Linked DNA regions of Homo sapiens: regions 1, 2 and 3 are each linked to region 4. Evidence: fine-mapped expression QTL. A gene starts in region 4. Each other region holds a variant in brackets. All regions are shown on one strand. Distances are between the middles of the regions.

Region 1 (7,966 bases), 21 kb before region 4:
CACATACTTACTGTAAATCCTGCCTTTAGACCAAAGCAAACTTGATGTTATCACACAAATATAGGTTATGATGCACACAGCACTCTTGCCTGTTCTGGGGGGTTGTCTTTAATTGTCTCTATAGAGCATGTATCCCCTTTCCTTATGATATATAAGCCCGGGGTCTGGGGTGTATTGGTGTGGAGATCTATTTGTCTTGCTACTGCAGGCCACACTTCTGTCTGTAAGTTCCCCCAATAAATTACCCTTTATCAAAAAACTGATTTTGTCTGCCTTATTATTTGGTTTCTTGGCTCCTTCCTTGTTTGGAGATTGCTTTGCATATATGACCCTTTCTTGAAACCTGGTCTATTTTCTAAGGAGCACTCCATGTGAGATTACAACGCTAAAGAGGGAGAAAGAGATCTACTCATTTCTATATGCTTGCAATCCTATCGGCCTCATCCCACCAATAGCTCTTCATCCAAGAAAAAGCAATTGATCGAGCTTATTTTCCACATTCCCAGAACCAGCCTATTTATACCTTTCAGAGGTGCCCAGCACTAATTGTTTCTCTCCCCGAACCCAAATTCATGCAATTCCTTCCTTGCGATTCTGAGGTATGAGCAGCTACCAAGAAATGGCCCCTCCTCAAGGCCTGGGGCCCAGAATTTCAAGGCCCTTTTCTCTCCTAAGTTCTAATAACCCCAACCTCACTCTGTTCCCTCAGTCCAAGGGGTGGTAGCTGTTCCTGCAATTCTATCTCTGTGTTACCTTAATATTCTCTTTTTACTTTCTAGTCTTCCAATACCTACTTAACCAATTCCAGACATTCAATTCTTTGTGTTTAAATAACTAGGTTGTTTTCTTTACTTAAGTTGGACTAACATAGTACTATGGAGATGTTTAGAAGCTAGAAATAACAGAATTATCCATCTGATATAAGATACATGGGAAATGGCAGAACAAGGATAATATGCATGTATCTGGCTTTGGAAATTTGGTAGATTTTTATCTTTCAAAGAAAACTCTGGAAGAGCAAGATTAGGGAAAGCCTGGGAAGAGATGATTAGCTCAGGTATGCACAAATTTTATTTAAGGAACATATTTCTAGCACACTAAGTGGAGATGCCAATAGAAAGCTTGTTATATGATTCTGGAGTTTTAGAGTAAGGGTTACACTAGAGATTAAGCTTTTTGAGGGTCATTAGCATTAGATTAATAATCCTCAATGTAAGAAATAGAAGAGTTGGGAAACCTTATTAAAGTTATTTTTTTCCTCTAAAACTTTGTAAAGTCCTTGGTTGTACAGAGTTATTTCTTCTTTAACTCACTCAAGGACATTTTTTATTGTATGCCTTTTAATGTTGACAGTTACTATTTAATTAAATAAGTACATTTGCTAATCAGGATGTTTATGTTTCTGAGTTTTAAGCATTGGAACCCTGCTATCTTTTTCTATTTTTCTCTTACTTGTGGAGGCTTTTTGATTTTGAATGTTAACTTTAAGTTAAGTACAGGAGTCAGAGGCCAAATTGCAATAGTAATTATTGCTTTACACTAACATAGGGTCTTTATTCCTTTTAAAAGGTAAACTGAGGCACAATAAAACTCTAAAGAGTTGATTTGAACAAATAACAATTCATGTATTAGACAGCACCAAACCAGAAGTGGTTTGGGATCTCTTTGGAGGAAATGCAAGGGGAACAAAGATGAACATGGAATTAAAGCAAAGAAAATATTTGATTGATTATAGTAATGCAGTTGCCTTATTTGGTTTATTCTGCTGAAAAGTCCCTAGCCATATGCTAATTAGGTGGTGACTTCTGATTAGCTAACTTTAAGTTTCCTTTTTCTTTAATATAGAGATTTAAAAGAAAAGGCCCAAATAAGTTTTGCTTATGTTTGCAAATCAAGCAAGGTTAAGGTCACTTATGAGGCCTGACTGACTTTGTGTGCTCAGGGATTCTTCAGGCCTGGTCTCTAATTTAATTCACTTTAACTCTCCCAAGACTCAAAAAATCTTGTAAAATTTGGAATCAATTTTGAATTTTCTAGTAACTAAGAAACTTTTTCTATGGAGGAGGAAATGGTATCAGCCAGTCCTTAAAATAAAAATATTGGCATTATAAGTTTAAATTAAAAATAAGCCACTTAATTGTTTACCACTTATGCAACACTTAATTTCTTGCTGTGTTCTATTTCTTTGTCATCCTCTACCATGTACTTGCAGCATTAGTTATTATCATTTGCTTTAATGAAAACACACAGAGTACATGTCATGATCAATGTCCCATAGTCATTGAAATGTTGTGATTTGTGTTTCTTAATTTATGAGATAATATATCTAAGACAAGGGAGTTTACATTTCTTGGTAAAAATAGAATAAGAAATAACTCTATTACTGATAAATCCTTACTGAGAAATCCTGTTGTGCTCGATGACTGTTTCCAGAAATAGTCACCTGCTTCTGCAAACTGTCCATTACTCCTCCAGTGACTCAGGAATTGTGTAGTAAAACCAGTTTCACAGTATGAGACAAGCTATACTTTTTATGGTATAAGTCTACTACTCTGACCTAAGATGAAGGGTGCTGCCTACTTTAAACTTTGCACTACATTTTTTTTCTTATTTCACGTGCCTTTTCAGGTTGAAAAAGAGATGTTGTATCTCAACTCCCTGGCAGGTCCTTAATGTTCATGCATCACATTCCACTCTGAGTCTATAAAATGTAGTCTCATATTTTCACAAGGTTTTGTCTGTTTATTTGTTTTGTCCTTTTTTATATATAATAAAGGGTTATTTGGACTGTGTTGGAGGGAGAAGGTTTGCTTCTCTTTTTAAATTAAGTTGTTAAGGTCATGGCAGTCTGCCTTTAGGTTGGCCAGATGCCTATCCTTCCTCTCTAAAATCCGACCTACTTCCCCGCTACTTCTTGGTAATACTCAGACCTTTTACAACCAACCTTTTATCATGAAATAAGGCAGCTATCCAAAGAAATACTATCACATACCTCATTATCAAATCAAAACATTCTTTCTTTTCCTCTATCACTCACAAATCCACCAAAACAAGTGAACAGAACCCATTCACCAACCTGAAAGAAAACATTCTATTCTGTCGACTTTAAAATTGCTTTGAAAGGACTAAGAATTGAGCATCTAAAAGACTTAAAAACTATAAGACTAAAACTTCATTCATGGCCAACCATTTTATAAGGCACTTATCATACTACTATAGAGAAGATTTTTTTCCATGTTCTTAGCCTCTTTTCTCCTCTACTTTACATTTCTTAACCCCAAAATTATGTTTTGAGCCAGGTGTATGATGCAGTATTTAAAAAGACTAATAAAACTGTGACAGAGAGAAATTCGGCTGACATTTAGTGTATAAGAGACATCACAAATCTTTATTTTTTAAATCAAATTATAAGTGTCTTGAGCCTTTCCAAAGCTTTGAAGAAATCCAGTATTGAACCAGTTTCCTAGGATTTCCTTTTCCTTGAGATGAGCAAGAATTCTTGGTGTCTGGCACTCAGTAATCTATGTATTTTCTCTATCATTGTCATTAGTATCATCCTCAGCATCATTGTGTAAT[G/A]TGCCTAAGAATAACTTGGGGGCCACACATGGTGGCTCACGCCTGTAATCCCAGCACTTTGGGAGGCTGAGGTGGGCTGATCACGAGGTCAGGAGTTCGAGACCAGCCTGGCCAACATGGTGAAACCCCATCTCTACTAAAACTACAAAAATTAGCCAGGCACAGTTGGCACACACCTGTAATCCCAGCTACTTGGGAGGCTGAGGCAGGAGAACTGCTTGGACCCAGGAGGTGGAGGTTTCAGTGAGCAGAGACCCAGCCACTGCACTGCAGCCTAGGTGACAGAGCAAGACTCATCTCAGAAAAAAAAAAAAGAAAGAATAACTTGGGGGCTTACTAAAATGTAAATACCCTCCCACCCCCCACAACATGAGAAGTAATGAATCAGAATCTCTAGGTGAGGATGTGGGAACCTGCATTTGAATAAGCATTCCAATAAGTGATTCAAAAGTTAGGGGTACTGGGCCACTTAGAAAAAAGACAATTTTTGATCTTTCCAACACAAAAGCCTAGAGAGGAAATAGCACAATGGGAAATTTCACATTTTATCTGGCTTCAGGTGCACTTTTGCACTTATATTTAAATGCGTTTGGGTTTGAGATTCTGATAATTCTTTACATAAAATTAATGAAGGTGTATAATGAATAACGTTCCTAATGTTACTCTTTCAACAGCTGTACTCATCTTTTGATGGGCATTTTTGGGGCCAGAACTGCCTGCTCATTTCTATTCCAGGCATGAAACTCAAAACAGCCCTTGTGGTAAATAACCCATGAAATATCAACAGGTTTGTTTGTGTATCTGAATTGCTACTACCAGGATTTTGACCTACTAAACTTCCTAGACACTATAGCTTTCTTCCTTGACCATTAATATGGGGTTGTTTTTTGTATTTTAACTCATACATTCTCAATGAGAGTAATATTGTTTTCCCAGGAAATGAAATTTCTTCTTGAGGGGAAAAAAGTCTATTATCCTTATAAACATAGCACAGATAGAAATATAATATGTAGGGGAGGGGGCAAAAAACTTTCTTCTGCCTTCTTTATGTTTAGCCACCAGGGCCCGTGAATCAGACTAACAAAAAACAGATTAACAGGAGAAAATTACAATGTTTATTCATTCATGCAACATGCGTACATGTGGGAGAGCTTGGTGATGAGTAACTCAAAGGGGTGGTTAGAATTTGGGGCTTATATACCATTTTAATAAGTAAAGGGATAAAGGCACTTATGGGAAACAAATGACTTTTTGGAAAAATAAATGCATTTGCAGGAGAAAAAACAGGCAATAAGAAAGTTTGTGAAAATGTCTACACAGGACAAAATGGTCTTTCATCTCCTTCAGGGTCATAAAACCCTCCTGGAGAAGAGATTTGGGGTAGGTTTTATTTTCTCTCTCTCTTCTGGGAGTAGACATGCCCTGAAAAGGATTTGTGACAATCTTGTTTCCCAGAAGTTGCTCCTTTAGTCAGAAAAGGGAAGCTTCAAAGTTGCTTTTTCTTTTTCCCCTTTTCTAAATTTGTTCAATCACAAATGTCTTCAACTTAAAATTATCTTTTTACCAATGTAGCATATTTTGGAATGGCATATTCTGGTTCCCTTCAAGTACATAAATGGATATACAGTATATATATACGGTAATAAAATTTATGGAGGAAGGATAATTTAAAAGAAAAAGTCTACAAAGATTCCTTGGTGGGGGACAATGAAAAAAGATTGAGAAATACTGCTTCAACTGATCCCAACTGATTTTCTAGTCTTTAAAATAAAAACTTTGAAATTTGGAAAATAGAAAAGAAAAAAAATTCCAAGAATTCTGCCACATACATATAATACACACACACATAGCATCTTCAAATATATAGATAGTATTTGTTGTACCAGAAAATAGTCTAACCCCTTTACGTGTACTAACACTTTTAACAGGGTCAACAATCCTGTGGGGTAGGTACTATTACCATCCCCTTTTAACAGATGAGAAAGCTGAGGCACAGAGACATCAAGTAATTTGTCTAGGGTCACACAGCTAATACATGGTAATACAAGGATTCAAAGCCAGGAGATTTAGCTTCAGTATCTATTACTTTAACCATTAAAGTATATGGCATCTCTTTGGGTATATAACCTAATCTCCTTCATATGGATATGTACACAATTTATGTATTTGCAAAAAATGAGACTTTGTGCACATTTTACAATCTACACTTGCCTTTTAAAAGTATATGACATCCTTCCATGTTATAAAATAGGCTTCAATATCATTTTTAGTGACTACCTAGCATTTACTTGATACTGATAGTAACAGTCCTCATTTATTTAGCACTCAGCATATGCTGAGCCCTCTGCCACGTGCGTAACACATATTGTCTATTCAGTCGTCATGATAGTCTCTTTAGATAATAATGAAAAATAATGGCTTTTTGGAATAACGTTTGTAAAAAATAGTAATAATGGCTAGTATTCATTGAGTGATTCCTGTTCACTGGACATAGCTCACGAACCTTATCCACATGGCACCCTTTAATGCTCTTTTACAGTAGCCCTAGAAGACTGACACTATTATTATTCCCTTTTTACTGATAAGGAAATTAAGACTCTGAGAGGTAAAATTATCTGCTCAAATGAACAGACATCAGGTAAAATTATCTGCTCAAGATGAACAGACATCATCTCAGACTCAATCTCAGATGCTTGCCTCTAAAGTCCTCCTCCGTACTATTATACACTCCTGCTCCCCCTAGGAACTGTAGTTTATTTCATTTGAATGAGCTTTATTCCTTAAACTAATGTAGACTTTCTGCTATCATTAATGGTTTCTCGGCTTCCAGACCTTGACTCGTTTTGGCCTCTAAGAACCATTGAACCATTGACACTCCATATTGCTAATTGTGATCTTGCACTCCCTGACCTTTCTATTATAAAATACAACTTAACCAGCTATTGTCCTGTTGCATTACAACACTGGTGTTATTAACACTATATATAAATGTCATGGTGGGCAAATTCACAGTTCTTAATCTTTCCCTCTCAGAGCAAAACCCCTCTGACACTGGCCCAGAGGCAAACAGCATGAGGCAGAATCCTTCACAGGTGTTCCAACAAGAAGGCTGAATTAGCTAGGAGCTGATGTGAGATTTTCTGTACATTTTCCCAGTCCTTCACCTCAGGGCTCCTCTCTCCCATGGCTCCTGATCACATAGAACAGGTGGAAACAATCATTAGTTCACCTCTGCCTCCTGGATCGCCAAGCACATCCAAGGGGCTCAACACTCAGCAGGTCATAACACTCAGATGTGATAATGGGGAGCCCTGCAGGCACGGCCACAGATGCTGAGTTATTTGGGTGAGCCGGAGTGGCAGGTGCTTCTCTGGGGCTTTGGATGTCTAAGACCAATATAGGACTTTGGTTCAAGCTCCTGCTCTGATCCCTGTATGAATTTAAACCTACTTAGGCTTCACTTTTCTCTTCTGGCCCTTGAACTCAAAGTTGTTTAAATTTACACCCAAATTGTATCCTAACCAATACTGCAAAAACGAGAAATGCTGTAGGTAACTAAAAAGAACACCAACTTCTTCGAAAAAAAAAAAAAGAGAGAGAGAGAAGAAGATCCCTTCCCTGGCTTTATCATTACAAGATTGATGACTTTGGGCATTTATTTGACCTACAGATTTCTGAACATCAGTTTCTTCATCTGAAAAGTGGAAGAATAAGCTGGGCACAGTGGCTTATGCTTGTAATCCAAGCTACTTGGGAGGCTGATGCATGAGGATTGCTTGAACTCTGGAGTTCAAGATTAGCCTAGGCAACATAGCAAGACTTTGTCTTTAAAAAAAAACCCATCAAATTTGCAGAACAGTGAAATAATAGTCATCAAAATTAGATGAACTAATGATTTGAAGTGTCAAGAACATGAAGAGTGTAGGAAATTGTCTGCAAAGGTGGCCACCAACAATTTCTCCCATACCTGTGCCTGCAGACTGCTCTTGCCGTCAATATGGGCTAGTCTTGGGACTTGCTTTGACCACTAGGATGTGCCAGAAGGGATGGTATGCCAGTTCTGCACCTAAATCTTAAGAGGTCTGCCAGTTTCTTTTCTGCCTTCTTTCGAAATCCAGCCACCACAAAAAGAAACCCAGGTTAGGCTACCAAATGATGAGTGGCCATTATCTTTCCCTGTCCTCCAAATTTTTCCCATATAATCAGAATAGGAGAAAGTAGGGATATGACTCTGGTACATATATTCAAAGTTTCTCAACAGATACAACTTACCCTGGAAACAAAGGGAGAAGCCAACCTGATTAAGTGCACTTAATATGAGTTCTCTGGACTCAAGAAGAGGCTAAACCTGGGATGAACAAGGGACCAGCCTTAGATGAGGTAACTCATT
Region 2 (7,966 bases), 47 kb after region 4:
TCTCATGATAGTGAGTGAGTTCTCAGGATATCTGATGGTTTCATAGGGGGCTTTTTCCCTTTTGCTCAGCACTTCTTCCTGCCATTATGTGAAGAAGGACGTGTTTTGCTTCCCTTTCCGCAATGATTTTAAGTTTCTTGAGGCCTCCCCAGCAATGCAGAACTGTGAGTCAATTAAACCTCTTTCCTTTAGAAATTGCTCAGCCTTGGTCAGTTCTTTATAGTAGCATGAGAATGGACTAATGCATCAACCCTCCCTGCTTGTCTAGTTCTCAATTCTGGTATCATGTCACCTGAATTCTGTTCCTGTTCTCATTTATACAGAACCACCTACTATGGGCAAGTCAGTGGCTTGTTTCTGTTTCATGGAATCTTCTAGCTATGGAGAGCTCAGGTATCAGACTTCAGAAGTAGAGCTTGGCTTGCCTTGTGCATGGAGACTTTAGTCTATGGCCACCACTAGTTAAGAGCAGATTAACTCTGCAAGGCTGGCTCCATAGACACCTCACTTTTTCCTGAGTGGTGCTGTCCTCAGTGTCTTAACACTTAAACACACCATGATATTCTGATATGCTTGATCAAAGGAAAATGTTATATTCTTTATTCAAGTAAAAATAATTGTTGGGACAATGGATAGTTGAGAAATGAGTGAGATCCTTTGTATAGAATTAAAAATTATAGTAATACACTAAGAGGATGTAAAATGAGAGTTGTCCGATGAAAAAGCTATGGACATTGAATGGTGCCTAAAGATAGAAAGGACTCAGTTGAGGGCCAAGAACATTTAGCATCTTAGATTTCCAGAAAGACTAGAAAGAGAAGCTATGAGTATGCAAAACCATTATGTCCCTTCTGAATAGCAAACTAGAAGAGAACTCATTTTCACTAAGAAAGTATATTGTATTTCCTAAATAAAGGAGACATTCTTGGCACTTTTTTGTAGGTTTTTTTTTTTTTTTTTTTTTTTTTTTTTTTGCCAAGTACAAACCAAATTAACCAGGATCTCACAGAGTGGGACTGTTGGAGGCGGCAAACCAGAGCCTGACTTTGGCTGGCAGAATGAGGCCCTGGGGCTGTGTCTGAAAGAACCAACAGAAATGTGACCACATCACTAAGTAATGGACTGGTCGTGAGGCAGAGACCCTGTTAACCAACCTGGAGACGCCACTACACACACATGTGCATGAGCACCAGTGTTCATTGGATAAACTATCTATGGAAGGTCTCTTTCACAACAGGCAGACAGCACCTTCTCTTTTTTTGAGACAAGGTCTCACACTGTTGCCCAGGCTGGAGTGTAATGGCATAATCATGGGTCACCGCAGCCTTGATCTCGTAGGCTCAAGCGATCCTCCCATCTCAGCCTCCCGAGTAGCTGGGACTACAGGCACTCACCACCACACCTGGCTATTTTTTTTCTATTTTGTAGAAATGAGGTCTTGCTGTGTTGCTAGGGCAGGAGATCCTTCTTTTGAATATGAATCAGTTCCAAAGCTCCATTTGCCACATCCTAAGGCAAAGATGGTTCTTCATTTCTTTTCAGATTTGTGTTTCTGTAGAAAAAAAAGAAACAATTAAGAACTTCCTTTGATTTTCAGTGCTAGTCAGTTTGCACACAGTGCCTGACACCTCATGTGTATTTGTTATAGGCTGAATTGTGTCCCCCAAATTCATGTGTTGAGGTCCTTAACCCCCCAATACCTCAGAATATGACTGAGTTTGGAGATAGGGCCTTTACACAAATAATTAAGTTAAAATGAGGCTAGTAGAGTGGGCACTAATCCAGTATGAGTTGTGTCCTTATAATTAGAGATTAGGACAGACATACACAGAAGGAAGACCATGGGAAAACAGAAAGAAGACTGCCATCTGCAAGCCAAAGAGAGAGAGATCTCAGAAGAAACCATCCCTGCCAAAACCTAGATCTCAGACTTCCAGCCTCCGGAACTGTGAGAAAATAATTTTCTGTTGTTTAAGCCATCTGGTCTGTGGTATTCTGTTTGGCAGCCCTCACAAACTAATGTAGTATCCGGTAAATATTTGCTGAAGTTGTTTGTTTCCTTTTCTCTTACAGACTGAATTGGAAATGGCTTTCTTTGTTGTCATGCAGGGCAGAAATCATTCTTTCCATAGGCCTTGTCAGTTGTAGAAGAGCAAAGCAGAATGTTTGTGGATTATTCTCAGCTACTCAAATTGTTCCTAGTTTCTTTTTAGTAGGATTTTGCTTGTGGAAATTTGACATTTTATTTGGCGCCACACTGGTTCACTTCTGTTTTCTCCCAATTCATTTCACATTGCAACCACATCAACTGTGTTGGAGACTGTGTTATTACAATGATTTGACCTTAGGTTGAGGTTTCTGTTGCAAAACCAGCTGAGGAGGTCCTAAATGTGGAAAGCAGATGTTTCTCTTCTGGCATGTCTTGCAGAATTATCTGGCAAGAGAATATCTTCTGTGAAAAGAATGCGTGAGAAATGTCATGCATTTGGCAATGATTAAGAAAGAAAGGTAAACCTTCAACTCCTTGTTCTTAAAAGAATTTGGCTTGTTATTTACTGGGAAGACAACTAAGATGCAAAGAGCTTTTCTGCTCTTTGCAACAAATTTCTTAAAATTTGTTTTCTTTTCTACTCTTTTGTTCTTCATAAGGCCAGAATATATTATCTCGGGGAGAGCTGATGAAAACATGACTTAGTGGCTCTTAGAGATTTAGCATACTGATGTCCAAGAAGACGTTGTTGTTTTTTAAACTATCAAAAGGCAGGCCTTCATTTGGACTGCTACAACAAAAATACCATAAACTGGGTGACGTAAACAACACTGTATTTCTGTCACCCAGTTCTGGTGGCTGGAATTTGATATCTGGGTGCCAGCATAGTCCAGTTCTTGATGAGGACTCCCTTCCTTATTTGCAGATGGCTACCTTCTTGCCCTACCCTCAAATGGGGGAGAGAGAAATCATCTCTCATGTCTCTGCTTATAAGGACACAAATACTATCACGAGGGCCTGACCCTACCTTCATGACCTAATTATCTCCCAACGCCCAACGACCCCACCTCCAAATACCATTGCAACGAGGATGAGGTTTCAGCATATTAATGGCGGGGGCACCAATATTTGATCCGTAACTATGCGAGTGCCAACTAGCTAGTTTCTTGTCTTTTTTCAGTGCCATATGGAGGCTCTGCTGTACATCTTCTGAGATCCCATAGTTACTATATTAAAAAGTACCATTCTGATGAGAATGTGAATAGCTTTTATTATATTACCTTTGATCTGGTGTGAAGATGCCTTCAAATAGATTTAAGAAATTACTCATTAAAAGGATATTTTTCAAAAGGAATTGCCAGTTGATTAAATAATACTAGGTATTAAATTTTACCTCA[T/C]GGAAGAACAAACTTGTTTGACAAAAAAACATTTCTTAATTAAAGCCATATATTTTCATATTAGTAATGTTGCTATATAATTATAATATTTTTAATTTTGTAATGTTTTTATAATTAAAGGACTTAGTAAAATCCATATTCCTGTATATGTTTGAATAACCAGACAGAGAAATGGAAAAGGGAAAGAAAATCCAGGGAAGGGAATATTATTTAGAAAGGAAGCCTGTGATACTCTTAAGGTCTGTCACTACAGCTTGCTGGACTTCAGGATGGGGATAGGAGATGCAGAAGACAAGAGAGGAAAAAACAGAGAAGGACTCTGGGGGAGGGAAGGTAGATTAAGAGCATTGCAGACTGGCTTTATTTAATTTGTTTGTTTGAAGTAAATGCCTTGACATTATCTGGACGACAAGACATTCTAAAACCAAATGGAGATAATTAGATTTTTTTTTCTCAATCAAGGAGCATTACCCGTGCATCTCTATCAGGTAAACAAGAGATGGCAGTGAAAAATTACAGTTGTTTACATGAATTATTCATTGTCTCACTGGGTCCCAGATGTACCAATGGAATGCATGGTGAATTCATATTCTTGAGCCTGAAGAGGAGGTTTAAAAATTCTCCTTTGCACTTTTTCCAAGAGAAAAAGGCATTTACAGATTGATTTAAAAAGAAAAAAAGCTCAATTATGTTTCCTTCTAATATAAAGGCTGACAAGGAAAGCAAAGCAAGCAACTAGAAGACATTTGCTGTGCTCTTGACTTTGGGAAAGACCATGGGCAAATTATATCACTTTTAGGAAATTTAATTTCCTTACCTACAGAAATAAGGCATGTGAATCAACTGATTCAGCAGGCTGTCTTCAGCAATAAAATTTTGTACTTATCAAGGTTCTTTCCAAGGCAGTATGTTTTTTATTTTTAAAAAATAACTTATTGAAGCTCAATTCACATAACTTAAAATTAACCATTTTAATATGAACAATTTAGTGGCATTTAGCACATTCAGTGTTGTGCAACCACCGTCCCTATCTAGTTCCAAAAGATTTCTGTCACTCCAGAGTAAAATCCCTTGTCCACTGTACTAGTCTGTTTTCACCCTGCTGATAAAGACATACCTGAGACTGGGTAATTTATAAAGAAAAAGAGGTTTAATGGACTCACAGTTCCACTTGGCTGGGGAGGTCTCACAATCATGATGGAAGACGAAAGGCGTGTTTTACAGGGCAGCAGAAAAGAGAGAATGAGAGCCAAGTGAAAGCGGTTTCCCCTTATAAAGCATCAGGTCTCGTGAGACTTACTACCACGAGAACAATATGGGGGAACCACCCCCATGATTCAATTATCTCCCATTGGGTCCCTCCCACAACATGTGGGAATTATGGGAGCTACAATTCAAGATGAGATTTGGGTGGGGACACAGCCAAACCATATCACCCACTAAGCAGTTGCTCCCCTTCCCTCCCTCTCCCCCCCAGCTCCTAGCAACTGTCAATCTGCATTCTATATGGATCTATCTATTTTGGATATTTCATACAAGTAGAATTGTACAATATGTGAGCTGTTGTGTCTGGCTTCTTTCACTTAACGTATCATTTTGAAGGTTTATCCATGTTGTAGTATGTATCAGTCCTTTATTCATCTTTATGGATGAATTATGTATATAAATTTATGTATATACCACATTTTGTTTATTCATCCGTTGATGGACATTGATGGACATCCATTGATGGATATTGATGACATTTTGTTTATTCATCCATTAATGGGCACAATAACCAAAAAGACATTTCCTTTTGGTTATTGTGAGTAGTAGTGCTATAAACATGCATGTACATGCATTTGTTTGAGTACCTGTTTCAATTCTTTTGGATCTACACCTAGAAGTGGAATTGCAGGGTTATCGGTAACTCTAGGCTTAGGTTTTTGAGAGACCTCCAAACTGTTTTTCACAACAGCTGTACCATGTTATATTCCGAACAGCAACATATAAAGTATCTGATTTCTCTACATCCTATTACAGCCATCCTAGTAAATGTAAAGTAGCATCTCATTCTCCTTTTGACAGAGCAATATGTGATCAGCTTAATTCCTCTAAAGTCAAATTTCAGTAGTAAAATAAAGTTGATGATGAAGATGTCTGAGGCCTCCAGAATTCACTCACTCCAATCACTCTCTTAGTGTTGTGGGACACCAGTCCTGACTCTTTATCAAGGTCACTAGCACCATGTTTAGAGGGAGAATTTATTTTTATCAAGGATAGTCAGGTCAGCTGTTTCAGCTGGGTAGGATTAGAAATACAAAGAGAGAGCAACCAACAAAAGGCACTAGTCATGGCACTTTAGAATACTACTCTTGCTTTCCATCAAAGTCAGTGGTTTAAGCATTCATAAGGAAGAATACTATGTTGAGGCATCTCTCTGAAATCACGGACTTTTTTAAGTCTTAAGAGCAAGAGCTCATGTTAAATTTGAAAAATAGAATTTACTTGTTTAATATATTTTTGCCTGAGTAGGTGATGTCATTTTTTTTTTTAAAGGAAGGCCTGAAGTTACATGATTTTAGGTCATTTTGTAGGGAATTTCAGGTTATGGCATATGCAGAGAGGTCTTAAAGGAAGAAAAATAATTGATTCAATGAAGGGACAGAGGACTAAGGCTCAAAACTAAATGTGCAGGGAAAGAAACAGAAGGCAAGAACTAAGAAGAGTATAAAAAGAACACCTTTTGATGTGGTGTGTCTGCAATACCACATACTTTTCTCCAAGGATAAGGAAATCTGCTTAAGGACCCCTGAATTTTAGGCCTCTGGAAAACTGTCATTAACCTCACGATACGGAAGCCTGTTCCATCATCAGTTTTCCTTGAGGATAGCATTGTTTCAAACCCAGACAAATAGTAATCATTTTTATTCCCTTTAGCCAAGAAGGGGCTAGAAATTGCTCTAAGGAGGACATTCTGGGAGAGCTACAGCCTCCATGAGTAAATTAGACTGAGAGGTGGCAATGTTTGCATGTTCATTTCCCAGATGTGAGATGAATAATTTAACCTGAAAGGTGAAATGCTCAGGAAAAGCAATAATTTAACCTGAAAGGTGAAATGCTCAGGAAAAGCAGATGGTCCAGAGATGCCATACTTCTCATGCAACATTGCTTCCATTGCTTGAAATTGGTGTCTGATTTTTTCATAGAAAAAATGTTATGAATATTACTTTGGAAAATTGTAGTGAAGTCATGGTCACACTTGTGTGTGTGGTCCAGTTCTTTGGGGTTCTCTTTTTCCCAGGTATGCAGCACTTTTACATCTCTGGGCCTCTGCTTGGAACACATCCCATGCAGGTCCTACTTCCCCTTCCCAAACCTTAACCCCTTCTAGCCCCCAGCCCTTTTTTTTGTCTACTCAATTCTTACCCTTTAAGCTTCTGCTTAAGCACTATCTTCTCAGGGAGGCAGCCTCTCCTGAGCTCCTGGCTCAAGTTAGAGCCCATGGCTATAAAAGCCAGTACCCCATATAATTCTTCTTTTGAACCCCTGACAATGTACCCAACTGCTTATTTAGTGCCCATCTTCCTCACTTGGCTGCAGGTTCCATCCAGGCAGAACCTTGCCTAGTTCTATTTCCTTGACACTGCTCTCTGTCCTAGCTCATAGTGCTCTTCAGACATTACTTAAGTTGACTCTGCTCTCCCAGGAATAAACATTACTTCATACTCTGAAAAGGAAGAACCCTATCTCAGGCTGCCCCATTTTCTCTCCCTCTCTCTTTTTTTTTTTTTTTTTTGGCTGTCTCTTTCTGAATAAACTGAGCTGCGCTGCAGCAATGGCTTCTGGTTGCCTGCAAGTGTGTGTTGGTCCAGACAGCCTCCTCCCTAACTACAGTCAGACGTTCTTCTCCAAGCTGTTCTGTTAGAAATTCTTCTAAAGAGAATTTCCTAGCTACACAAATGATACCACATTAACAACAGAGGATTATTATTATTATTATTATTATTATTATTTTGAGGCGGAGTTCCACTCCTTTTTGCCCAGATTGGAGTACAATGATGCGATCTTGGCTCACTGCAACCCCTGTCCCTGGGTTTCAAGCAATTCTCCTGCCTCAGATGCCTGAGTAGCTGGGATTACAGGTGCGTGCCACCACGCTTGGCTAATTATGTATTTTTAGTAGAGATGGGGTTTCACCATGTTGGCCAGGCTGGTCTTGAACTCCTGACCTCAGGTGATCTGTCTGCCTCGGCCTCCCAAGACAACAGAGGATTATTTTTAAGTAAATAATGCCTCTTCCCACACATCTGCTCACAGTAATGGCAGCATGATGTGAATTAATGTCATTAGAAACCCATGCTGTCCTCCAGAGTTGCAAAAGCCTGTCATAGGAAAATTTTATAGTCATAGAAGGATGTTCCCCTCCTTTGAGAGTCTGGTTTGCTATTGTTAGAGGAGAGAAGAGGATTCAGAAGGCTGCCAAACCTGTATGTTGCTGGTTTTGTCTCCTCTGGAGATTGGTGTGACGCTCATGAAGGGGACTCAGCCACCTGTGCAAAGCCCAGCCCTTTATTAAGTCACTGGGCATCTCATGGAG
Region 3 (4,000 bases), 32 kb after region 4:
TTAATAAAGAGTGAACATTATGATAATGTCTGAGAGGCAGAAAGGCATTGGAAGAAGAAATTGGCCAGTGAATGTATGGGATACTCACGTTCAACATAGCATCATTATAGATGTTATTTTGCTTTTTTGTTTGTGTTTTATTTGCTTTAGGGGTTACCACCTTCACTGACTCTCACTTCAGTTCAATCTCATCATCTCTGAGAATGCTCATTGAGCTTTTTGACTTTCTATGGGCATAGGTGGAAGGCTGGCTTGAGTGGAGAGTTTTAACGAAGTGGTAGAGGGAATGGTGAAATTGGAAATGTCCCTCAAGTGTGTATATTAATAATGTGACTTGAAATATGAAAGATAGAAATTTTCTTGGAGGGTAAGACAAAGCAACAACAGCAAGGGAGACGAAAGCCCAGTTCAAGTCTCCTTTCCACGGTCAGCAATGTGTATGATCTTCCTCTTCATGATCTTCCTGGGAGGAACAGGCTCTGCAGCTGTTGCATGTTTTGCCTTTGATACCAGTCACTTCATAGCCTACAGTGGTGACCCATGTGGGAATCTCTGTGGGTTTAGAATAGCAGGACTGAGCCTAGGAGAGATAAACAGCAATGCCTGTGAGCCCTTGCTTCACCAGCATTAGCATCATTTGGAAGCTTGTTAGACACGCAGAATCTCAGGCCCCACCCCAGACCTGCTGAATCAGGATTTGCAACTGCAATTAGCCCCAGGATGATTTGTATGCACCTGAATGTGCCACTATAAGCTGTGTCCCCCATGCTACCGCCATCTTACAGTAGCTCCCAAATCTAGTTTCTATCAAAATCACCTGAAAGGCTCATTAATATTTCATATTATCTGACCTAATAAGCCTGGATATTTTGTTAGAACTGGAGAGCTTGGGACTCCTCCTTTTTAGCAAAACTCTGGGTTAGTGGTGACAGAGAAGGTTGGAACACATTTTAATAACCATTTTTTAGTGATTCCTTCTTATCCATAAATTTCCAGCAGAGTATGAGTTCTAGAGTCAAATGCGAAAGGTTCTAGGGCAGCACTGTTCAATAGAACTCCTGTGATGATGGAAGTGTTCTGTTTGGCACTTTCCAATATGGTATCCACTAGCCACATGTGGCTTCTGGGTACTTAAATGTGACTGACTAGTGTCCCTGAGGTACTGAATTTCTAATTTTGTTTAATTTTAATCAAGTTCAAATAACCACATGTGGCTAGTGGCCACTATATTAGAAGTGCAGTAGGGGTGAGATATTTTGTTTCATATGGTCTTGTTGGTCTGACTGAGCAAACAACCTTGACGTTGATTTTCCAGTATTTAAAAGCATTAGGGAATGAAGGGATCCTGATTGTCATGGCCTGTCTCTGGTAAAATATCAGTGGATTTAGAACTGCTATGTTAATCAGATCAAGGGGCTTTTGCCCTGATGTTATGTATTTCTCTCACTGTTCCATGAGTGTCCCTGTGGGCATATCACAGTATCTAGCATTTTCTCTGTCTGCTTGAAGACTGAAAATGTCTAATTCCAGTTCAATGTTTCTCCTTGGAAACTAACCTTCTCTTCTGGCTGCCACACTTTTTAGAACAAATATAAAGCTGAAATTCTCAAAAAATTGGAGCATCAGAGATTGATAGAGGCAGAAAGGAAGCGGATTGCTCAGATGCGCCAGCAGCAGCTAGAATCGGAGCAGTTTCTGTTTTTCGAAGATCAACTCAAGAAGCAAGAGTTAGCCCGAGGTCAAATGCGAAGTCAGCAAACCTCAGGGCTGTCAGAGCAGATTGATGGGAGCGCTTTGTCCTGCTTTTCCACACACCAGAACAATTCCTTGCTGAATGTATTTGCAGATCAACCTAATAAAAGTGATGCAACCAATTATGCTAGCCACTCTCCTCCTGTAAACAGGGCCTTAACGCCAGCTGCTACTCTAAGTGCTGTTCAGAGTAAGTGATGAAATGCACCCATGTGAGACACTGAGCCTCATCGGATGGAACCATATTTCTATAGCATCTGGGAGGGTCCTTCTCATTTCATTATTAATTGTAGTAGGACCCCTGCATAATATGGTATGAATGAAAGAATTAACCTTTCAATACTCTCTAGCTTTTACTATATATAATCTTAAAATTCAGGAAATATGATGCCCCCGATAGAGCAGAGACTCTATAATAAATGGGAAGTATTTTGTCATTGACAGAGGTTTTAAATGAGAAGAATTTCAAGTACTTTTGTCTTCTATGTATTTTAACTAAGA[AATAC/A]ATACATCTTAAATACATCCATCTTTCTGGGGAGAAAAGGTGTGAGAAAATTGTTTATCTAGACCTTTGCTCAGCAATAAATGTTTATACTCAATATGTTTAGCATCATCCTTGGACTGAGAGAATCTCATACACATAGATAATTAACCTCCAAATGGACCGTGTGTTTCCGCAAGAATTAGTGCTGCTCAGTACTGCCAGATCAGTGCTGGCAAGTTTCCAAAACACAGAATTCTTCTTCGCAGACACTGTCAGATAGAATTTGTGTTCCCATTTATTTGAAATGAGCGATAATAGGCAACCATTTTGAAAGTTACTTTACTGCTGATTGTTTACCAAAACGTTGTGCTTTTACTTACTGATCACCAACTTTCATGAAGATAGAAGTAACATGATAAACACAATATTTATCTATGTCTTATAGGATATGAGATGCATTCTATGCAGCCTATGCATTTAACCCTATATTTGCTTCATGCCTAAAGATAACATAACATGTAAATAGTTAACCCAAGATACAAACATGTAAAAGTGCTTGTACCTTCTGATTTTGCTTATAAAATAATTTATATACATAATTTAATTTTACTTCTAGTTAATGTTTACTTCTAAGAGTTTTAAAATAAAATATGGAAAGTGGAACACCTGATACTTTTATTTTTGAAATTTATGTCCAACTGCAACTGTTTGCCAATAACAATTTTGAAAGATGGGACATATAGTTTGTTTTTTAGCCTTTTCTCCCTTTTTTGTTTCTTAGATTTAGTGGTTGAAGGACTGCGATGTGTAGTTTTGCCAGAAGATCTTTGCCACAAATTTCTGCAACTGGCAGAATCTAATACAGTGAGAGGAATAGAAACCTGTGGAATACTCTGTGGAAAACTGGTATGATCTTTTTATATAAATATATATATATATATATCTGCATAGGATACTTTTAATAGTACTAGATTTCTTCTGATAAGTGGAACAGAATAAAACCATGCTAAGAGTTATCAATATTATGAAATTAACGTTACACAGATTAACTTTATAAAACTATTGTCATTACTAATGGAATGATCCTTTTAGAAAATAGATTGTAAAATTTCAGAGACACTATAAAAACTTGTCCTAAAGAATCAACCTATAAATTAAATCTTTGATTAGAAAAATGGTACGAAATATAGGTCTTCAGATTTCCAAATCTATCTGGTTGCCAAATCAAATTTTCATTGTAATTGTTAGTTTCACATACATTCATATAATTAACTTCATCTGTGGCATGTATTATCTTGCTGTTCTTTTTCAGATACACGTGGAATAAAACTAGGATTTTGTAGTTTCCTTTAGTTTAAGGCAGTAGTTTCAACAAAAGCCTATAAGCACAGGACATACTTAATTATGGAAGATGTCATCATAAGTATGTGATGAAAGACAATGTCATAATAGAAGGGATGAAAGAGAGGAGATGCATTCAATTTCCTATCTACAACAGAGATAATGTTTCTTTGGACGTGTCCTTTCATAGTCTGTTTTGAGTACCAGTTTATATATCTGGGTCCAGGTATATTTTCAGTTCTCAAAATTTAGCTTAGGAACCTCTGCTTTATTGAATAATAATACATTGTATTCAGTACACAATCTCCTGCTGCATTCCAGTGTTTTGTCATCACTTTCCCTCCAAGAGATAGGAAGCCATTGGTGGCAGCACAGGAGAATGGGCATCTATAGTCGCCTCTGTTGCACTTAAGGGGACAGTGT
Region 4 (7,966 bases):
ATGTTAGCAACTGTGATGGAGATACTAAAGGGCGTTGCAGAAGGAAATGTATCAAGATTCGTTGAAAGACGTGAGTTCTCAGAGGAACTGCTGGCCAAAGTGAGGAAAAAAGGGAAAGTTGCGCTTGTCTTTGTGGCCAGATTTCATGAGATGTATGGAAAACTGCACATCGTTGTCCAGGTCACCACTTACACTTTGGATGTTCTGCTCTGCGACATCCGTTTAAAAATGTAAGGGACGGGAAATCCCACATGTTGCCATAAAACAACAGGATGGTCACCTGTTAGACCTTCCAGGCACTGGGCCAGTCCCTGTTGGCTGAGTAAACCCTAGTTTCAATCCACCTGTGGGTATGAAGACCTGCTTCCAGTGAGTTATTGGCTTCCCTAAGAAGCAGGCATCGCACTTCAGCAGACACTACAGTGACACTTGATTTCCTCCCTAAAATCACTGAATGGTGGCATGCTGCTCTCTGAGAAGTTATGTCGTGCCACTGTGAAGATCTAGATACAAGCACAGAAAGCTCAGCTCCCTCAGAAAGCAGGCTTCCCCTGTGCACACTACTGAGGATCCGTGAAGGAACATGGTCACTGTCTCCAGTCCAGCTTCCAGTACTGGAGTGGAACCCAGTAGGCACTATCAGGAATGAATTTCACTACAAGTGTGGTCAACTCTGATTTTCAAGGGAGTAATTACTTGCAAATTATACCCTTGCTGAATTCAGGAGGTCCGAAACCCTGTTCTACCATATCAGAAAATAGCCCAGGATTTCCTCACTGCTCTGCCTTCATGTATTCTGTAACTTGAGCCCTCATTTTCTCATCTGCAAAATAATAGTGCTTATGTGTATTTGCATATAGATTTGAAATCTTCATTCAAGGTTTAGTAGGGTAAAATTGTCTCAAAAATAAGAGAAACAAAAGTTCTGGAGCAAAAAGAAATCTGGATTTTAAATTACTATTGAGATTGAATCTTTAAAAATGCAAGTAAAACTATAGGTCACTTAAAAATTCTCTAAGATAAAAGTTGTATAAATACACTGGTGCTTGCTCTTCATTAACTCAATTAATAAAAGGGAAATAAATCACACCTAAAGTTGCTATATCAGAGTTCTTGGTCACAACGCTGAAATCATTTCTGGCTAACTGAATCAGAAGAGAAATATATTGGAAAGTCGTTAAGTAGCATACCAAAGAGACAGGAAGTTTGGCAAATAAGTCTCCTTACACAGGAAGGGAAGCTTAGCAGCTGAAATTACAACAGGTGGGTCATCACACCATTCAAATAGCTCACTTAGGACACCACTGACATTGCCGCAGTGTTACCTCTGGCACTACTGTCCCTGAACACAAAACCCACTTCACAGATAATGGAGACATTTCTAAAATGTTTCTTCTTGAAACACATAATCCAGATTCAAATAACTGTACAGGAGTCTCTGAGGCTGATGTTGGGTCACAAAATGGTACTCTAGCCGCTGGGGAGCAGGGGACGATGGGTATTGGGCCATTTTGGCTTTTATGAGAATTTGGATGCTAGATAGCAAGACCATGATCAATGACCACTCTAAATACGTACGTGGAATTTTTTGTTTCATAATGCTTTTTAGGAATCTGGCTAACCTTCTTAATTACCACTGAATTTTAAATTGTCCAGTAGGTCATGAGATTATCTGGTTCAATACTGCAAACTCAAATGCCTACCATATTCTCAAATGTCAGTGAGGTGGGGGTGTATGGGAGTGGTGGGGACTGTGGAAAACTGAAGAGTGTCTTCACAGTCTAAAGGCGACACCTGCTATTCAGCTTCAGCTGATGGTTGCTAGAACTCGCCATGGACCAAATGTCTGATGTTACGATTTTACAGAAAATGTGAAAAGTCTGAATTTCTGTGAAATTTCCTAACTTCAACATTTGGAACCAACTTAAAACTAAGCAAAACAACACTGTTGCTTCTTAAAAATCAAGGCTGCAGGCTGCCTCCAACAATCAAACTCTTCATTTAAAAAAAAAAAAAGAATCCAGGGAGATGAGGCTTAAGAAGGTGAAATGCTTGAGACCAAATAACTCAGTTGGTGGCTGAGCCAGGGCTAGAATTTTGGTTTCCAGAGGAAAGGCTAACTAAGAAAAGCCAGTGTTTCCCCACCCCACTCTGCAGCCATTTCTCTCACTTGGAAGTAAGCTCCCAACCAAGCTCAAGAAAAGCGACTCTATTTCATCCAGCAGCAGCAGTCTCCATAAAATGTTTATCAGTTAATAGAACCTGTGAAGCCAATAGAAACAGCTTTCAGTGTTGGATCAGAGTTTAAATTTCAGCTTCTACTGCTTTCTAGGTGAGTAACCTGGGATAAATTATTTTACTTCTCTGTCTCTCGTTCATGGAAAAAACAAAAACAAAAACAAAAAATGAGTCCCTTTTATATACAGGGTTGTGGCAGATGGACTAAGATTTTGTGTACCGACTGCCTGACACAGTGCCAGAACTGTAGTAAGAACACCACACGTGATAGTAACATAACATCCAGGAGATATTCTAATACTTCTTATTTTCCAAGTACACACAAATTGGGGGTAGGGGGAAGGGCTAAGATGCTTAATAGTGGGCGTAGCCAGTTGTGGATAAATATCAAAAAGGGAATCCTAACATGAAGTATAAGTGGGATTTTCACCAAAACCCTATCCTTCCCCAGACTCCAGTGACAGTTTAACGGTCAGCTGCATCAAGGCTTGTGTACTGTGCAGTCTTAAAAGGCACCACTCCTGTCCATCTCGGTGAAATTGATGGTGGAGCAAAAGGGAGTTTAGGTGGTTCCGGTCTGGGGAGAAGACGTGCAGGGTTTCAGATGCGAAAGTCGCACCCAACCGCTTCACTCGGGCTCTAGGCCATCCGCAGGGGCCCTGCTTCCTTCCACCTGCGAGCTTTTTCTGCAGAATGCGGGAAGCCGCCGCCGCCGCCACAGAGGAGGGGGCGGAGGCAGAGGCGGAGGCGGCACCCAGGGGCCGGGGCAGGGGAGGCCGGGACCATCGCAGTGACAATTTATTTTCCTGCAGCAGCGGCAGCAGGGACGGTTGCTGCAGGTTCGGGGTCGGCCGGCCTGCGCGTGGGCTTGCGAGGACGCTGTTCGTCCCCTGCGCTGGGGTGTCCGACAGCGAGGAGGAGAACGACGCACGGAGCCCGCGCGACTGGAACCAGCAAAGCTCCATCTGTCGGCAGAGGAGAAGGGGGAGGAGGCACGGCCGAGGCAAACGAGCGGACGCCTCGTCGCCGGGTGCCGGTATCACCCCGCTGCAACGCCTTCCAGCAAAAGCCACCGCGGCCCGGGTTGCAGCAGCCGGACGGATGCCAAGGCCACACGGCAGCCACGGGGGCAGCCGTCGCAGTCGCCGTCCCACACGGGCTGCGGACACCAAGGGTTGCTAGTGAGTAGCGGCGCGCGCGCGTGAGTGAGAGCGCGCACCGGACGGGGAAGTGCGCACGGCGGGTGCGTCTGCCTCGTGGCCTGGCGCGCGCCGGCCCTTCCGCTGGCAGCGTCCGGTCCCGGGCTGGCTCTAGGGGAGGAAAAAATGCACTTTGGCGGCTGATCGCTTCCTTCCTGCCAGTCATGCAATCGGCCGCCTCCATCGGCGCCGCCTGTATGCGCCCCTCCGCTGGGCCCTCTGGGTTAGTTTCACCTTGATAGGGAGGCAGGAAGACCTGGCTGCTGGTGGCAGGGCGGGACTCTGGCCGTGACCTATACGTGGGTGCGCCTGTTTTTTTGGTTCAGCCCTGGGTTGCAGCCTTGGAGATGATGTCGACCTTGGGAGAGACCACTGCACTGTCTCTAGCGGCGCGGTGTGGAGGAGGGAGGGGCGAGGGTTAGAAAAACGGACCTTTACCCCGGCCGAGCAGGTGCCATGCCTTTCCAGATGATGTTACTTTTATGCCCTTTATGAGCGACTAAGACATTGCCCCTCACCTGAATAACTTAAAGCTTTCGCTGAAAGCCCCCAGTGAGATGCACAAAGAAATGGAATGTCTCCAAAACATATTTTTTTCAGAACTTTCTCTAAAACAACCCACGCTGCTGATACCCCCAGAGCCTAAGGTGCCATAATTGCTGAAGTTTAAAAGAAAATTTATGTAAGGAATAAGTAATTCAGGAAACGGAACCCAATCTAGAGGTTTGAAAAAAAAAATCAAGTGCCTGGGAAGTGGGGTGGGGTGGCTTGCTTCCTGGAAATCAGTGTTCGGTAGTAAGTAAAAAAGACAGCTTTCAAAGTAAGCCCCAGTGAGCACACTGCTTTCCAAACATCTTGCTCATTACTGACAATAACATGAAGTCCTGGATTTTAAGCTATTTCCGAAGACATAATAGATATCACTAGGATGCTTGTTTATGGTCTCATGATTTAAGGCCCTGTCAAGGTCAATAACGTAGATTTGTTCCAGCAGATAAATTATACCTGAATGTTTGATTGTTCGTGTCAATTTTTTTGAGGGTAGGTTTTGACGGTTGTTTTACACAGAAATTAAGCCACCGTGTTTTGTTTTTATCCCGACCTTGTTTCCATTGGAAATTTTGTGTTTTCAGGATGGATGCTACATTGCACTTCAAAAATATACTCTGCCACTGGATTGTAGTGGGCATTGTGTAGCTACACTATACATATCTTTATTTTTAATACAAGTTAATGTGTCGCTGAGCAGTAGGCTCTTTTTGTTTACCATTTGCACCATGAGAGCTTCTCCATTCAAAGGCATAAAATGTTATTGGAATCTACCTGCAAAATGAATTGGCTGATTGTTTTCTGTTCAGACACAGATACAGCAAATTGCCACTAAGAATCTGCTTTTGCGTATACGTTGGCTGTAATTTATGTAGCAACTGGTTCTTGGGAATTTCAAGAAGAAACTTGTTTTCTTATCCTCACCTATAAAGTAAGCACCAAAATTTAAATTATAAGGCAGATAACCTAAGTCCTTTACCTCTATCTCAACCTTCAAGGCCTGTTTCTTGGTACTCTTGCCCTGTTTCATAGGATTCTTACGGTTTGTGGGAGGCTTGGAGGGAGTAGTGAGGAACCAGTTTCCTGAGGATGTCCTCAATAGAGAGATTTGCTTCTGGAGGAGAGAGTGTCTTTGGGGTTGATTCCTAAGAAGGACTGATAAAAATAGTTATAAAGAATTGTTAGTAATAGTTCTCTCTTCTTACTTTCAGCACATAGGACTTAATTAACACCGTTTGATCATTTCCTTCCTTTAGGACCCTTCCCAGCTGTAAGAATTTACAGCTACAATCCAAGAAATGAGATTGCATTTTACAAGAAAAGAAAACTGATGATTCTTGCCCAAAACATGAGAAGTAGAAGGAATGTGAGAGAAAATAATGTAGATTCCGTCCAGGAAGTGCTAGGTGCTTTCCTGGTGGGTACATTTACAAATTAGGGACATTTTAATTAATCTACTGGATTTGTGATTCTGTCTGCTACTATCTTCTTTTTCTTGACCTTATGAAAGATTTATAGATGGCTTCAACTGAAACTACAGGAAATGACTCATGGTTATCCCTGAAGATATTAGAGCCAGATTTCCATTCCTTAGGGCTGATGCATAGCAGCTCTTTGATAAATATTTGCTAAATAAATGACAAATTTTAGAATGTCTTTTTATTATTATTGTACTTTAACTTCTAGGGTACATGTGCACAACTTGCAGGTTTGTTACATATGTATACATGTGCCATGTTGGTGTGCTGCACCCATTAACTCGTCATTTACATTAGGTATATCTCGTAATGCTATCTCTCCCCCCTCCCCCCACCCCACGACAGGCCCGAGTGTGTGATGTTCCCCTTCCTGTGTCCAAGTGTTCTTATTGTTCAATTCCCACCTATGAGTGAGAACATGCGGTGTTTGGTTTTTTGCCCTTGCGATAGTTTGCTGAGAATGATGGTTTCCAGCTTCATCCGTGTCCCTACAGAGGACATGAACTCATCCTTTTTTACTACATCACCTCTTCTGCTATTTTTTAAATCATAACTTTATATGAATCACCAAACATTTCATCAAATTGAATCCCAGTTCATATAATCAACTAAGAAGGCCAACATCCTCGATTGAAGAAACAGTAACAAAATCAAAACAAAACAAAAACAAAACTCTAAAACAAAACTAAAACCAACAAAAAATACTATTGGTACCTGTTGACTTGCTTATTCCACCTATCTGAACATGTGAACTGTCCAATTGAACGTGTGAATGTACATTCAGAAATCCTGAGTTGACATCAGAATGTTCAACTCAGGAATAATCTGGATGTAGCTACATCTGGATGTGGCTTTTGTCAGAAATTATTTGCATTTCTAAGCAAATCAGATTAACGTCTAGTACAATCTTCCATCTCTGCATGTCAAGTGGACAGGCCAATTTAACATTTGGCATACTGCTGAGTCTTCAAAACACATATTGTTTGATGCTCTAACTTTTAAATTAAATCTGTGTTATTTTTTTCCATTGATGTGGTTGGCTTAGAGACATTAATTTGACTGGTGGTTGCTTAGTAACTTGTGTTTATTAAAAGAAGTCCCTTGATATAAACACCAGTAATTCTTATGTCTTGATTTGCTGTAGTTAACCTTTCAAGGTACTCTTTTGGAAATGGGTGCATTGTCTTGAATATTAAGGATGTTATGACTCCTTTTTTTTTGTTTTTGTTTTAGTTCTGACTTTCCATCTCCTGTCATTAGAAAGTCTCCCAGTTATTCAGGTTCCACTTTCAGGATGACAGATTAGAAAGCTATCTGAAATTTACCTGGATATTAACTTTCTAGTGGGTAATAATAATGCAAATTTTATTCCTGAAATTCTTCCTTTCATGTCCTTCTCTGATCAAGCTTGTTTCATTCTGAATGAAAGTCAAATGAGATTCTCAATTTATTTTAAAAAATTGGGCTATGTCCAAAGATAAATACATAAAAGTAAAATATTATGTAAAATAAAAAACTGCTTATCACTGTTCTGAAGTAGCACAAACACAGCTATTCTCTGCATAATGAAACGTGGCCGTTCCTACCAAGTATTTATTTGACAAGTAGGCTCTTAAGCACTTGAACAGAAGTGAAAAGCGGGTTTCCTCCATGTCATATTAAGGCCCTTGAAAGGTGGGGGTGGAATTTTGATTTGAGGTGGTAGCCAATTGTAGGTTCCTTGAAAGGGAGCAAGTGAGGAAAGCATGTTGTCAGAAGAACACTTTGGCAGTTGGGTGGAGAGTGGATTAGTATTAGGGAGTGAAGGCAATAATCCAGTGTCTGATGATGACAGCCTGATCTCAGATCCCATTGAGATGGAGAAAAGAAAACCTTAGGCAGATATCAGGATTCTTTGTTTTATGTGAAAGAGATTGAAAACCTGTGGCACAAGTGTGATCACTAATACCTTCCACACCCACAGAGACATCACCAGTGGATTACAGCATTCTTTCCTGCGGAGCCCTGGTGTAACCTCAGAATCTTGCAAACATTTGACAAATATTTATTAATAGCTGTTAGTTATTGAAGATGTGCTATATGCCAGGCACTGTACTAAGCCTTAACACAAGTTTATCTCAATGATGATGGAGTGGTTGGAAACAGGATACTTTTTCCCCACGTACTAGTAGTGTACCCTTGGACAAGTTACTAACTTCTGTGAGTCTCAGTTTCCTTGCTTTTCAATTGAAACGTTAGTTTCTATCTCAGAAGGTTTTAGGGAGGATTAAATAAATAGCTGTAAATGCAAAGTGGTTAGAACAATGTCTGGCACAAAATTAAGTGCTATATGTGTTCGTTGTTATTCTTTTTACTATTCTTTAAACAACCTTATGCCTAAGTACCATTTTGCAGATTAAAAAATGTGCAAATGAGCTATGTGAATTGCTCAGCATCATAGGCTGGTAAATGATAGAGCTGGCCGTCAAACCCAGGCAATATGACTCCAACACCTATTTTCCT

Evidence for each region. PIP is the estimated chance that this variant, and not a neighbour inherited with it, causes the effect.
Region 1: its variant is the best candidate, but not a certain one, in a credible set for the expression of STAMBPL1 in whole blood (TOPMed, PIP 0.51).
Region 2: its variant is the best candidate, but not a certain one, in a credible set for the expression of STAMBPL1 in atrial appendage (GTEx, PIP 0.59).
Region 3: its variant is the best candidate, but not a certain one, in a credible set for the expression of STAMBPL1 in whole blood (INTERVAL, PIP 0.77).

What each region holds. Positions count from the first base shown.
Region 1 is chr10:88,856,201-88,864,166 of GRCh38, forward strand. No RefSeq gene overlaps it. Among named protein-coding and RNA genes, the nearest start is that of ANKRD22, 8.3 kb to the left of the region's middle. The variant G/A (reference allele first, on the strand shown) is at 3,577.
Region 2 is chr10:88,924,681-88,932,646 of GRCh38, forward strand. No RefSeq gene overlaps it. Among named protein-coding and RNA genes, the nearest start is that of ACTA2-AS1, 4.0 kb to the right of the region's middle. RefSeq lists an enhancer at 7,595-7,694. The variant T/C (reference allele first, on the strand shown) is at 3,388.
Region 3 is chr10:88,911,517-88,915,516 of GRCh38, forward strand. STAMBPL1 (STAM binding protein like 1) reads left to right here. Exons shown (of 11, transcript NM_020799.4): 6 at 1,585-1,942; 7 at 3,018-3,142. Among named protein-coding and RNA genes, the nearest start is that of ACTA2-AS1, 19 kb to the right of the region's middle. The variant AATAC/A (reference allele first, on the strand shown) is at 2,254.
Region 4 is chr10:88,877,220-88,885,185 of GRCh38, forward strand. It overlaps STAMBPL1 (STAM binding protein like 1), which reads left to right and starts at 3,026. Exons shown (of 11, transcript NM_020799.4): 1 at 3,026-3,419. LOC124902551 reads right to left here and starts at 3,445. Exons shown (of 1, transcript XM_047426134.1): 1 at 2,515-3,445. The coding sequence starts at 3,203. The coding sequence ends at 2,676. It also overlaps the pseudogene PTCD2P2. RefSeq lists a silencer at 2,915-3,044 and enhancers at 3,625-3,734, 4,755-5,954.